2 linked regions of the Homo sapiens genome follow. The protein of the gene in region 1 purifies or fractionates together with the protein of each later gene. This does not show direct contact. Each region holds a gene or a part of one and is shown in the gene's direction. Other genes may lie near its edges.

Region 1 (7,125 bases):
TGTGAAAACCAGCTAGCTTAGGATACTCTCTGGCCCATCCCCCAATGTAGGACCCTCTTGCAAATAGTCCAAAAAAAAGCACAGTTCATTTCAATCCCATGAAAGAAATCAAAGAAGACATGAGTAAATAGAGAGATGTACTGTGTTCATAGATTGGAAAACTCAACATAGTAAAGAAGTCAGTTCTCCTTAAATTGATTTACAGATTTAACATAACAATAATCAAAATCTCAACAGGATTTTTTATAGATATGGACAAAGTGATTTTAAAATTTATATGGAACAAAAAAGGACCTAGGATAGCTAAAACAATTTTGAAAAAGAAGAATAAAGTGAGAAGAATCACCTTAATCAAATTTAAGATAAAGCTACAGCATTCAAAACAGTATGGTATTGGTGAAAGGAGAGAAACACATCAAATAATGTTACAGAATGAAGAGTTCAGAAATAGACTGACATATATGGTCACTTTATTTTTGACAAAGGTGGTAGATTCAATGGAAAAATTGAAAGGCAAAAGGATAAACTTTTCAACAAAAGTTCTGGAACAATTTTGCATCTAGATGCAAAAAACAAAAAAACGAAAAACCAAAAACCTTCAACCTAAACCTAAACCTCATACTTTATATTCAGAATTAACTCAAAACGGATTGTAGATCTAAATGTAAAACATGGTACTATAAAAGTTCTAGAAGAAAATGGGATATTTGGAACTTGAGGGTAGGTAAAATTCTTAAACACAATACCAAAAGCAAGATCCATCAAAAAAAAGGTTGATGATAGGACATGGTCAAAAGTAAAACTTTTTCTACAAAAGGCATTTAACACAATTTAAAAACAAGCTACAGACTAGGAGAAAATATTTACAAATCAGATATCTAACAAAGGGCTTGAATCTAGAATATATAAAGAAATCTCAAAAGTCAACAAAAAGAAACAAGCAACATGATTTTTTTAAATGGACAAAGGATTGAACAGACACTTCAGTAAAAAAGGATATGATGATGGCAAATAAGCAATGAAAGGTATTGAAACATCGTTAACCCTGAGGGAAATGTAAATTAAAACCATATGTGGTGGGATGCCACTACGATCTAGTCTAATGTCTAAAATTAAAAATATTGACAATACCAAGCGTTGGCAAGGATGTGGAGCAACTGGAACTCTCATATATTGCTTATATTGCTAGTGGGAATGCAAAATAGTACAGCCGATCTGGAAAGCATTTTAGCAGTTTTCTATAAAGTTAAACATACACCTAACATATGACCCAGCAATACCACTTCTGAGTGTCTTAGAGAAATGAAGGCTATGTTTATATAAAAGCATAACATGAATATTTATAGCAGTTCTATTCATAATTATTAAAAACTTCTAGAAACAACCCAAATGTCCCTCAGCAGGTGAATGGATAACTTGTGATATAGTCATACAAGGGACTATTAAAGAGATGAATTATTGATGCATGCAGCAATGTGGGTGAATCTCAGAGGCATTCTGTTGAGTGCAAGGAGGCAGTCCCAAAAGGTTACATACTGTAAAATCCCATTTTTGTCACATTCTGGAAGACAAAGATATAATGATGGGAAACCAGTGGTTGACTGGGGTTGAGATTACTGTAAAGGTAGGATCGATAGCACAGGGGAATATTTTCAGGGGGTGATGGAACTAATATATGTTTTGATTTTGATGATTGTTACCCAGATCTATATGTGTGTTAAAATTCATAGAACCGTATACCAAAAGAAAAAGATTTCTATTAAGGAAATTTTTAAAATAAGTTTTTAAAAATGTGCAGGAGCAACATAATATATTCTTGTGGTTTACACGTCAAGTTGTGTCTGTCCAGGATAACCCCCAGATGCCTGTGTAGGCATTTCCATTGTAAATGTATCCTGTCACATTTTTACCCTGCAACCTTCTGAGTCTCTCCGTCAGTGTGGCCTCAGCTGCCTCATTGCTTTTTGGAGTCTCTGGATTTTCCCCTCATTACTGGCTCTAGGTTGCTCCTAGAGGTGCTAAAATATGCTGCTGGGGTGAGAGCAACGAGGTATCTGCATGCCCCTTGCTCAGAGTTGAAATAAGCATAGCCATCCCAGTTCCTAGTGCCATGAACATCTCCCCATCCTCCCTGTTATCCTTAGCTTCTCACGCGACCTGGCCTGGTCCTGGTCCACAGCTTCCTGCTTGGTTTCATGCCTCATTGGCATTTCAGTGAAGAAACTTATTCTTACAGGCTGTAGAAAATCTCAAAGTGTTATTGCCTGAATGCACATCCTAATTGTAGTGCCTGCTCTACTCTGCCCAGTGGGAGTTGCAAACAGCCTTTATGAAGTCAGATTTTTCTTGGAATCATTTTCAGGTGGCTATTTTCCTCCTGAGGATTTGTCTTATTAAGCCATTCGAGTGGACAATGGAGGCACGTGAGTGTCTGGGTGGCAGCAGGCTGCACCGTTGAGACATGGAATAAAGTGCCATAAACGTCTTCCTTTATTTTATCTGCTTTGGCTCAAGCTCTTGGCAGGGTAAAGGGTTCTAGACAGCTATTGTGTGCTCAGCTCCAGTTGCTGTGGAAAGGTTGTTTATTTCACAAGTAGAAAATCTATACCAAAATTAGATACATTGCTGTGTAATTGAAGGTAATGTCCTTTTATTCACTTACATATTACAGTGTACAGTACTTTGAGTCTTGTGTTCGTGTTACCCTCGCAGTTTTTATTGATCAACAAAAAGACAAAGATGGCTTTTAATTCTTCCCGGATGCTACCAAATCAGAATACAGACCTACCGAAGATTATTTTGTCGTCAAGGATAAGACAGGCTTCTTGAATATTATCTTTCCCTGGGGCACATTTTCTTGCCAACTTTAGAGTTGAAAATACTCTGGTTTCTAAAAACAATAACCTAGAGGCTTTCTTTGTTGTCATTACTAAGCATGCCAAAGATGGCCACTGGAGAAAATTATTTCAGTCTCTTTCACTCTGATTCTTATAGATAAAGAGAGAACTGCACAGGCAAGCAAGAGAGGGAGGGAAGGAGGATATAGGAGATGAAATTCATTGTCATCGTTAGGCAGAGCCTCTTGTATCTTAAATTCTATTTTTGAGACTTGAAAGGAAAGAATATTTTAAAGCACTTTGGTAGCCACTGTAGCAGTTCCTAGATTTTAGTTATTCCTAACTGAATGCTCCCTTGCTGCTAATTTCTTTTGTCAAAAATGAAAACCCACTTATCACCATTCATGTAAAAATCTCCCACATATTTAAAATAGTGAGGTTCAGACATTTTTTCCCCTGAAAGAGTATCCATTCATTTAACAGTTCTTTACCAAAAAAGACATGTTTTTGTGAATTCAAATAATTTTCATTTTTCTTAGATCTTCTCTAAATTTAACTCAACTTTAACTTGCAGAGACCAAATTAAATTCATGTCCAGAAGTACCTACTGCTCACCTGACATGCAAGGTGCCAAGGTGTGAATGCTAAGGGTTTGGTTCTCAAAAAGCACGCGATGTGTTATTACTTCTTAGGAGGGCATTCATTTAGTTGATTTATGCCAGGAACGTGTAATGGGAGAAACCTATGCTCTTAATACAAGTTTCTTTATTCCTAGAATCTGTTTTTTAGTGACAGGGAAGAAGGAAGCTGGTATTGCCAGCACTTTTTCTTTTGTGACAGCTGCAATGACCAAAATTCCTTCTTATGTAGAGCCAGATACTCGGGAGTTCCACCCACTGTGAGTCAGTTCATGTTCACACCAACCCTGTGAGGTGGGCAGTGCAGGTGCTGGTACCCATTTTCCAGGGGTGGCAGATGAGGCTCAGAATTTAAGGGACTTGCTGGATTTCATAGGGGCTATGATTAAAATTCAGTCTTTTGACTCCTAGATCAGTGGTTTTTTTCCAAACAAGGGATTACCAACTCGGTCAGATCCAATGCTCCTTTCTAGAACTGTCCTGAAATGAAAGTCATAGTTAATGTAATGTACCCATAGGTTTTTTTTTAAATAACATAATTCTCTAACTAATACAAAGGAGAAATAAAAGAAAGTGATCCATAATCAAAGAGTATGTATTTTAAAATATAAATGGTTAGGCAGATCTAACTGGAAGATAGAATGAAGTAATCAGATGGCTATTCCTAAACATAGAATCACCGTGAATACACTGTCTACAAATGCAGATGATAAAGATGTGTTGTGTGGGTGACACATGTCACTAAGTGGAATGTGGTTTTCCAGAACAGTGAACATGCTTGGTTAAGTTCTGAACACAACAAAGTGTAATCTACACTGTGGCTACTGAGTTTATTTGTAAAATGAGCTAGAGTCTAGTCTCAGATCATTATAAACCAGTTTTCACCTACAAGAACGTCTTTTGGGCCATTCACAAGTCATTGTGCAGGACAGTCTTGTGCATTGTAGATAATGGTGTGCTGGCAAACCAGCTGTCTGAATTTATCTGAGTTGTATCATTTGCTGATTTCTGTGCTGTAAGTACTCCTACAATGGCTGATTTCAAACTACCAGTAGGAACTTTCTCACAAAATTCCTGTAGATTTGACCACCAGCTTAGTAGGAGCCAGCTCTGGGAAACCACGAATTTTGTAGGATCTCTAGCATCTCTGGCCCTGCCCTTTAAATGCCAGTTGGATTCCCCAAATCATTGTGACAATAAAAAATGTCATCACAAGTTTCCCAAACACCTTCATCAGAAGCAGTAGCACCCCCACTGAGAAAAACAGTACATTCAACTCTGATGGTATTACGGGCATAAGTGACCTCACCAAATAGGTGCTTTATCTAGATAGGTCTATGTGATACTCCCTAGTATGAAGCCTCTGGCTGCCTGTTCTTGTTTCTCTAGGGAGACAGGAACAGCACTGAACAGTACTACAGGGCTGGTCTAAGCCTGTAGAGCTGGTCTGGCTGTGCCTTACTGAGGATCAAGAAGGAGCACCAGTACTTACACTTTTCAGCCTTGATGAACCCAGGGCAGGCAGTCTAGTGACATTTGCCACATCCTGTTTCTCTCAGCTTTGGTTAGAACACAGGAACACAACTCAGATAAAGGAGACCCATACTTCAGAGCTGTACCCTGCCTTTGAGTCCATTGCCTCTTTCCTCAATCCAGTTCATCGCCTAAGAAGTTAACAAATGGTGAAATCACTGAAGCACATCTCCTTTTCTCAGTATTGGAATGGCTGTTCATTATGGATTACGAAGGTGGATTAGCCTGTGGCCTATAAAATGAGCAAGTGGAATCAATTCACAGGGCATCGGGAAAATTGGGAGCAAGCTATAAAAATAGTCTTAAATACTGATAATACAGGAGATAGACCCAGTTTTATTAAAGTAGAACATTTGGTTTAAGACCTTTGCTACAAAAGACTAAAAGGTCTTTTCTTTCCTGCCTTAGTGTACACTTGACTGTGAAGTGGCTGTGAGAGTGGGTGGAGAGTTCTTCTTTGACCCTCAGCCTGCGGATGCCTCTAGAAACCTCGTGTTGATTGCAGGAGGAGTCGGAATTAACCCTCTGCTTTCCATCCTGCGGCACGCAGCAGATCTCCTCAGAGAGCAGGCAAACAAAAGAAATGGATATGAGATAGGAACAATAAAACTATTCTACAGTGCAAAAAATACCAGCGAACTCCTGTTTAAGGTAAGGGAGGTATAGCTTGCTGTAAGCAAACTTGTGTAGTGGTATTAATTGTTCATGAAAGTTTTTTCTCTAGGTTTTGTTTTCTCTGCAAAGGTTCAAACAAAAGGCTTGGCAAGATTTAATCATGCTTAAATGAGAACTAACCAACACACCTTACCCAAGACAAGTAAAACTGCTAGTGTTGAAGAGGCTAGCAGTTAGGTGACAGGAAAGGGTAGGTTTTGGTGGGATGGAATCTGGAGGTTAAATGAACAGAAAAGTCACAAGGGTCCCGAGATTCCAGTCAAGAGACCTACAGTGGACTAGTGTATCACAGGAGTAGGTAAGACTTAGACAGTTTGGACCCAGCTGGGTAAATGAAACCCCTGTCAGTTGCATCTGTTTAAACTAAGTGCATTTGATGAAGAAAGCTTTCACTGGGGATTGCTTTGCAGCTGCAGGAATGAACAAAAGAACAGAAACAGTTAAAAGACACAACTGTGGTCAGTGAAACTGCTGCTTAATTGCCAATGCTTGAGAAAAAGGAAAAAGAAAAAACTCCCGGAGAGTTGGTAATATGCTTGTTAGCATATTCAGATTTCAATTAAAGCCAAATAGCCCTCTGTAGTCTGAATGCTCTGGCCTGCTAGGCTGCAAACAATATCTCTCTAAGTAGAGAGCGAGAGCGGCAGACGTGTGCAGAATGGGAGTTGAGGTTCAGCGTCAATGGTTGTGCACATCTGTTTTGATTTTTTAAAATTGTAGTGTGACCAAATATGTTTGACATTCCAGAAAAATATCCTTGATTTAGTAAATGAATTTCCTGAGAAGATTGCATGCAGTTTGCATGTTACAAAACAGACTACACAAATCAATGCGGAACTCAAGCCATACATCACGGGTGAGTCCCCTAAAGATATTTTGACTATCTCCATGCAGTTATTTGATGGACACACCAGTTGGTTGAGCGTAGATGCTTTATTGTTGGAAGCTGCTGGCTGGGAATGTCACTATCTGGGGAATTGGGATGATTCCTCATGGAAAAATGGATATTTAGTTGGGTTTACTCATTATATACAGGTTTCCTATTGCCTGTGTTAAAAGTGTACTTTTCACACTTTTTAAGAGGCCTTTGCATCATCACTGTAGTGTCCATACAAATAATTTATATTCCAGATTTGGCTGAATTGATTCCATTTGCCATTAATGGTCATTTAAACAACTCATAATTTCCTCTGAAAGGATTTTTATAAAACAGTTACTTCCTTTGCTGAAGGCAATTTGTATCTCCATCAAAGACCAGTAAGCTAGCTGGCCCTTTCTGCAGAGTGCATTACGATGAGCTTCCCACTTTGCTTGCTTAGGTTTAGGAAGCCTGGAGATGCACTCTGCTTGGGTCTGGGCCCAGATGCCAATAGGAGCCATACTGTGAATGGCTTAAGAAGACTAGACTCACTGAACTTGGAAATAAACACTGTATCTGAATT
Region 2 (7,000 bases), on another chromosome or scaffold:
TTCCTGAAGCCCTTTGGAAGCATCATGATTGCCAGGCTTCTGACTTGTTCTGTTTTGACCTTTTAGGTTCAGGAACTGCTAGAAAAAGCATCAAATCCCAAAGTAAGTAGATAGCTGAATTCTTTAATTTGTATCTAAATCTTGGCTCTTTAGTTGAAAATTAGACCCATCCTGGTGGTTGAGTTGTACAGCAGTTTTAGGGTGGTTGACTTTAGATTGGGCCAGGGATAGAAATGTCAGCTTCCTCCTTGAGCCCCAAGTAATTCTCAGCTAGATTTTTCTCTTTGTTCAGACTGTCGTTTTCTCATTGGTGGCTGTTTGGAAATGGTGGTTTCAGGAGCTTGCTGTAATCTTGGATCTTTTCAAGATTTGAAAGCTTAAATCAGTTCATCCTAGATGGGCAATATCTGAAAGATGGAGGGAATTGATGGGAACAAGGAAGGAAAACAGAACAGAAGCCTTAGATTTTTCTCTATCCTTTTACCTCATTAGGAGGCCGGGTGAAGATTGTGATAGTTTATTACATTTAAGGAACAGAGAGTGGATGTGAAAGGTGACAGGGAGTGCACGAGGCGTTTGAGCCAGCAAGGCCTCTATAAAATCTGAATTACACATGGTTACCTTTTTCCCCTCAGATTCTGTCTTTGTGTCCTGAGATCAAATGGCACTTCATTGGCCACCTACAGAAACAAAATGTCAACAAATTGATGGGTAAGATAAAATTAAATATGAAAACAAAATTGTTCTGTCATTGTATTGCTTCTACTACCCTTTGTGGAAGAGAGAGCAACTTTTAGAATAGCCCCAATTCACCATTTGTTTTTGGAATTTCTTTAGGAAAGTCTGAGTTCTTAATAAAAAGAGAAAACATCATGCCAAGAACAGAATGAATTCACCATTTTCTGGGTTATATATACTTGGAAACCTACCCAACCTCATGTTTATTATTATTTGGTGGTCTTTCAGAAAAATTATAAAGAATTGTAGCCCATAAATTTTTTTAACTAGCAAAAGAGACATTTCTGTTCTTTTTCCTTTAAATAAAAGGCTACAGTAAATAAAATACAATACAGTAAAGTAAGTATAGTAAAGTAAAATTAAGAATTATAGTAAAGTAGGCCAGGCGCGGTGGCTGACACCTATAATCCCAGCACCATGGGAGGCCGAGGCAGGCGGATCACCTGAGGTCAGGAGTTCAAGACCAGCCTGGCCAACATGGTGAAACCCCAACTCTATTAAAAATGCAAAAAAATAGCTGAGCGTGGTGGTGCATGCCTGTCAAGTCCCAGCTACACAGGAGGCTGACGCAGGAGAATCGCATGAACCCGGGAGGCAGAGGTTGCAGTGATCCAAGATCACGCCACTGCACTCCAGACTAGGTAACAGAGCAAGACTTCATCCCAAAAAAAAAAAAAAAAAAAAAAACAAGAATCATAGTAAAATAAAATTAAGAAAGACATGGAGATCTTGAGTAACTGAACTTATTTCCCTTAAGGTATAAAAATTTAAATAACCTGTATATATTTTGTAACAGCTTTATTAGGGAGGTAAGTGACTTACAATACATTGCACATATTTAAAGTATAGAATTCGACGAGTTTTGATGTATGTTTGCACCTGTGAAACCATCACAACAAACAGTGAGCATATCTATCACCCCTAAAAGTTTCCTCCTGTCCCTTGGTAATCCCTCTCTTACCTGTCCCACTTCTCTTCCTCAAGAACCACTTACCTGCTTTTGTCACTGTTAATGTACGTGAGTTTACATTTTTTAGAGTTTTATCCAAAGGGAATCATGAAGTATGTACTCTTTTTTGTCTGACTTCTTTCATTCAGTGTAGTGATTCATCATGTTCATACCTGTATCAAAGGTTCAATTCTTTTTATCATTCAGTAGTATTCCATTGTATAAGTATATTACAATTTGTTTATCCATTCACCTGTTGATGAATGTTGGGTTGCTTCTGATTTTTGACTGTTGCAAATAAGTTGCTATGAATATTTGTGTACGAGCCTTTGTATGGATATATTTCCCTTTTTCTTGGAATAAATATATAGGAATAGAATGGCTGAATCACAAGTTAAGTGTTATGTTTAACTTTTTATAACTGCAATAAAACAAACATAAAATTTACTGTCTTGATCTTTTATTTACTTTTTTTTTTTTTTTTTTTTTTTTGAGATGGAGTCTCGCTCTGTCGCCCAAGCTGGAGTGCAGTGGCGTGATCCCGGCTCACTGCAACCTCCACCGCCCGAGTTCAAGCGATTCTCCTGCCTCAGCCTTCCGAGTAGCTAGGATTACAGGCACATGCCACCACACCTGGCTAATTTTTTACGTTTTTAGTAGAGACAAGGTTTCATCATATTGGCCAGGCTGGTCTCGAACTCCTGACCTTGTGATCCACCCGCCTCAGCCTCCGAAAGTGCTAGGATTGCAGGCATGAGCCACCATGCCCGGCCTATTGATTTTCAAATGTTAAACCAACCCTGCACTCCTAGGATAAATCCTACTTGAAGGCTGGGTCTCTATTAATCTTATTATATGTCATATAAACAAAATAACTGTGTTATGGGATTTATAACTATGTAAAAGCAAAATGCATGACAACAATAACAGAAGGGGATAAACAGAAGTACACTATTGTAAAGTTCTTAAACTGTGTGAAGTAGTGTAACACACCTTGAAGGTGGACTGTTGTAAGTTAAACCCCAAAGCAACCAATAAAATAACACAATAAAGAGTTATAGCTTATAAGTCAACAAAGGAGATATATTGGACTCAAAAAATGTGAAATGGTATCTCCTTACAGTTTTGATTTTCTTTTTTTTTTTTTTTTTTTTTTTTTGAGACGGATTCTCACTCTGTTGCCCGGGCTGGAGTGCAGTGGTGCGATCTCAGCTTTCTGCAACCTCCGCTTCCCAGGTTCAAGCAATTCTTCTGCCTCAGCCTCCCGAGTAGCTGGGACTACAGGCGCCCACCACCACGCCCAGCTAATGTTTTTGTATTTTTAGTAGAGATGCGGTTTCACCATCTTGGCTAGGCTGGTCTCAAACTCCAGACCTCATGATCCGCCTGCCTTGGCCTCCCAAAGTGCTGGGATTACAGGCGTGAGCCACCACGCCCGGCGGTTTTGATTTTCATTAATAACGAATGATGTTGAGCATCTCTTCATGGGCTTATTGGCCATTTTTATGTCTTCTTTGGAAAAATGTCTAGTCAGTCCTCTGCATGTTTTTTAAATTGAGTTGTCTTTTCATTATTGAGTTGTAAATTCCAGCTAGATTAAATAATCTAACTTGAAAATAAAAGCTATAAAAGTATTAGAATAAAATGCAGGAAAATATTTTTATTTTCTTGGGCTTTTCTAAGCAAGACATAAAATCTGGAAACCATAAAAAAAACAACTAGGCCAGGCACAGTGGCTCACACCTGTAAATCTAGCACTTTGGGAGGCCAAGGCAGGTGGATCACTTGAGCCCAAGAGTTTAAGACCAGCCTGGGTAACATGGCAAAACCCTGTCTCCACTAAAAATACAAAAAATTAGCTGGGCGTAGTGGTGTGTGTCTGTGGTCCCAGCTACCTGGGAGGCTGAGGTAGGACGATCACCTGAGTCCAAAAGGTTAAGCCTGCAGTGAGCTGTGATTGTGCCACTGCACTCCAGCCTGGATGACAGAGGAGACCCTATCTAATAATAATAATAATATTAATAATAATAAATTTTAAAAGAACAACTAGCAGATTTGATCACACAAAAATTAAAGCTTTCTGCATGTCAAAGCAAAAGGGAGGCACAGAGTGGAAGAAAAATAATATTTTTGAAGAGGGAAGAGATTCATATCCAGAATACATAAAGAGCTACAAATCTTTTTGTTTATAGGGAAAAAAAATAGGCAAAAACTGGGGCAATTTATAAGGGGTAAAAATACAAAAGGCCAGTAATCAAATGAAAAATATTCATCCTCAGAGAAATACAAAATCACTAATCAGATTTGTAAAAAATCAAAAAGACTGCTAAGATCCAGTGTTTTGAGGGAGTGAGTAAATGAGTACTCCTTCGTCTTACCAGGAGATTCTAAAACCGTAGAGTCTTGGAAAAACATAAAGATTCCACCAAAAAACTATTATAACTGAAAAACAACTTCAGTAACATTGCAGGATACAAAATAAATATACAAAAATCAGTAGCATTTCTATATGCCAACAGTGAATGATCTGGAAAAGAAATCAGGAAAGTAATCCCATTTACAATAGCTACAAATGAAATACCTAAGAATAAACTTCACCAAAGAAGTGAAAGATTTCTGCAATGAAAACTGTAAAACACTGATGCAAGAATTTGAAGAGGACATGAAAAAATGGAAAGATATTCCATGCTCATGAATTGGAAAAATCAGTATTGTCAAAATGTCCTTATTGCCCAAAGCAATCTACAGATCCAGTGCAGTCCCTATCAGAATACTAGTGACATTCTTCACAGAAATAGAAAAACACAGTCCTGAAATTTATATGGAACCACAAAAGACCCATAATAGCCAAAGCCATCCTGAGCAAAAAACAAAGCTGGAGGAATCACATTACCTGACTTCAAATTATACTGTAGAGCTATAGTAACCAAAACTAGCATAAAAACAGACACATAGACCAATGGAACAGAATAGAGAACTCAGAAATAAATTTGTACATCTACAGAGAATTTATTTTTAACAGAGGTGCCAAGAACATACATTGGGAAAAGGACAATCTCTTCAATAAGTGCTGCTGGGAAAACTAGATATCCATATGCAGAAGAATAAAACTAGACTCCTATCTCTCACCATGTACAAAAATCAAATCAAAATAGATTAAAGACTTAAATCTAAATCCAAGACCTGAAACTACTAAAAGAAAACATTGGGGAAACTCTCCAAGACATTAGTCTGGACAAATTTTGTTTGTTTGTTTGTTTGTTTTGAGACAGGGTCTCACTCTGCACCCAGACTGGAATGCAGTGGCATGATCTCGGCTCACTGCAACCTCCATCTCCTGGGTTCAAGCGATTCTCCTGCCTCAGCCTCCCAAGTAGCTGGGATTACAGGCACGCCCCACCATGCTGGCTAATTTTTGTATTTTTGGTAAAGACGGGGTTTCACCATGTTGGCCAGGCTGGTCTCCAATTCCTGACCTCAGGTGATCCGCCCACCTCAGCCTCCCAAGGTGCTGGGATCGCAGGTGTGAGCCACTGCACCTAGCCATGTTAGAAATATGTAAAGGTGATGGGAGGAGGGAGCGGGGAAGGAGCCAGCAGGCATAGAAGGGGCAGGAAAACCTAACAGAACTGTTGTTTTAGTGCCATTTTCCCTTCTGGATGATCCGTTATACTCATTCAACCTCACAGCTCAATTCATTTCCATAAAGGCTTCTTGAGGCCAGATGCAGTGACTCACACCAGTAATCCCAACACTTTGGGAGGCCAAGGTGGGAGGATCACTTGAAGCCAAATACATATATGTATATTTCTTTCTTTTTTAGTCTTTCTAGTCTTGCTCTGTCACCCAGGCTGGAGTGCAGTGGCGTGATCCCGGCTCACTGCAACCTCTGCCTCCCAGATTGAAGGAATTCTCCTACCTCAGCCTCCCGAGTAGCTGGGATTACAGGCATGTGCCACCAGGCCTGGCTAATTTTTTTTGTATTTTTAATAGAGACAGGGTTTCACCATGTTGGCCAAATGGATCTCAAACTCCTGGCCTCAAGTGATTCGACCACCTCGGCCTCCCCAAGTGCTGGGATTACAGGCGTGAGCCACAATGCCTAGCCATCTCTGGCTAATTTTTTTATTTTTTGGTAGAGACAGGGTTTCACTGTGTTGGACAGGCTGGTCTTGAACTCCTGGCCTCAAGTGATCTGCCCTCCTCAGCCTCCCAAAGTGTGGGGATTACAGGTGTGAGCCACTGCACCTGACCTTGACAAAGATTGCTTGAGTAAATACTCCAAAAGCACAGGCAACCAAAGCAAAAATGGACAAATGGGATCACATCAAGTTAAAAAGCTCTTGCAGGCTGGGCACAGTGGCTCACGCCTGTAATCCCAGCACTTTGGGAGGCCAAGGCCAGCAGATCACGAGGTAAGGAGTTCAAGAACAGCCTGGCCAACATGGCAAAACCCCATCTCTACCAACAATACAAAAATTAGTGAGGTGTAGTGGTGGGTGCCTGTAATCTCAGCTACTTGGGAGGCTGAGGCAGAAGAATAGCTTGAACCCAGGAGGCAGAGGTTGCAGTGAGCCAAGATTGTGCCACTGCACTCTAGCCTGGGCGACAGAGCGAGACTCTGTCTCCAAAAGAAAACAAGCTCTTGCAGAGCAAAGGAAACAACAAAGTGAAGAGACAACTCAGAATGGGAGAAAATATTTGCAAACTGCCCATCTGAAATACTTGTACATAGCACCAAGTTCTATATCCAAGCTTTGTTTTTGTAATAAAAAATAAGAAACAATCTAATATCCATTAACGAGGAATAGTTATGTAAACTGTGATAATCTGTCCTGTGGATTGCTGCAGTTTTTTAGTAGAGATGGGGTTTCACCATGTTGGCCAGGCTGGTGTCAAACTCCTGACCTCAGGTGATCCACCCACCTGGTATTACACGTGTGAGCCACCACACCTGGCCAGTGTTAGGGTCATGGTGATGTCCTTGTTGGATAAGAATACCCTCATCCCAGAAAGTTGAAGAATTGTGGTGATATGCTAGGGAAGCATCTTGGCTTCCACTGGTCATCCTTTCTTCATTGTCATCCTGACCTGTTTCTCTCAGTTTGAACTGAGACATAGATCAAGCCTTTTACTAGGAATCTGTCCGTTACCAGCTTCTTGAAGCTTATGGATGTATATGCTGCCTGATCATGTATGTCAGCTTTTCCCTTATTTACCTTTGCTGATTAGCCAGGGATGGTCTGACATTTGAATTTGTATCTAGTAAAACTGTCACATTTGTCTTCTCAGAGGAACTGAGATTTAACTGTG

Evidence for each region. Proteins that work in one complex are often made in the same cells at the same time.
Region 2: the proteins of OXNAD1 (region 1) and PLPBP purify together in Homo sapiens (affinity purification with mass spectrometry; 2 studies listed by BioGRID and IntAct, with this or other methods). This does not show direct contact.

Annotation. Positions count from the first base shown.
Region 1 is NC_000003.12:16,296,210-16,303,334, forward strand, and holds part of OXNAD1 (oxidoreductase NAD-binding domain-containing protein 1 isoform 2 precursor), read left to right. Parts: intron 1-448; exon of another isoform or gene 449-3,955; intron 3,956-4,967; exon of another isoform or gene 4,968-5,416; coding exon 5,417-5,659; intron 5,660-6,430; coding exon 6,431-6,539; intron 6,540-7,125.
Region 2 is NC_000008.11:37,765,645-37,772,644, forward strand, and holds part of PLPBP (pyridoxal phosphate homeostasis protein), read left to right. Parts: intron 1-66; coding exon 67-102; intron 103-635; coding exon 636-711; intron 712-837; coding exon of another isoform or gene 838-890; exon of another isoform or gene 891-2,134; intron 2,135-7,000. UniProt on the Homo sapiens protein: Pyridoxal 5'-phosphate (PLP)-binding protein, which may be involved in intracellular homeostatic regulation of pyridoxal 5'-phosphate (PLP), the active form of vitamin B6.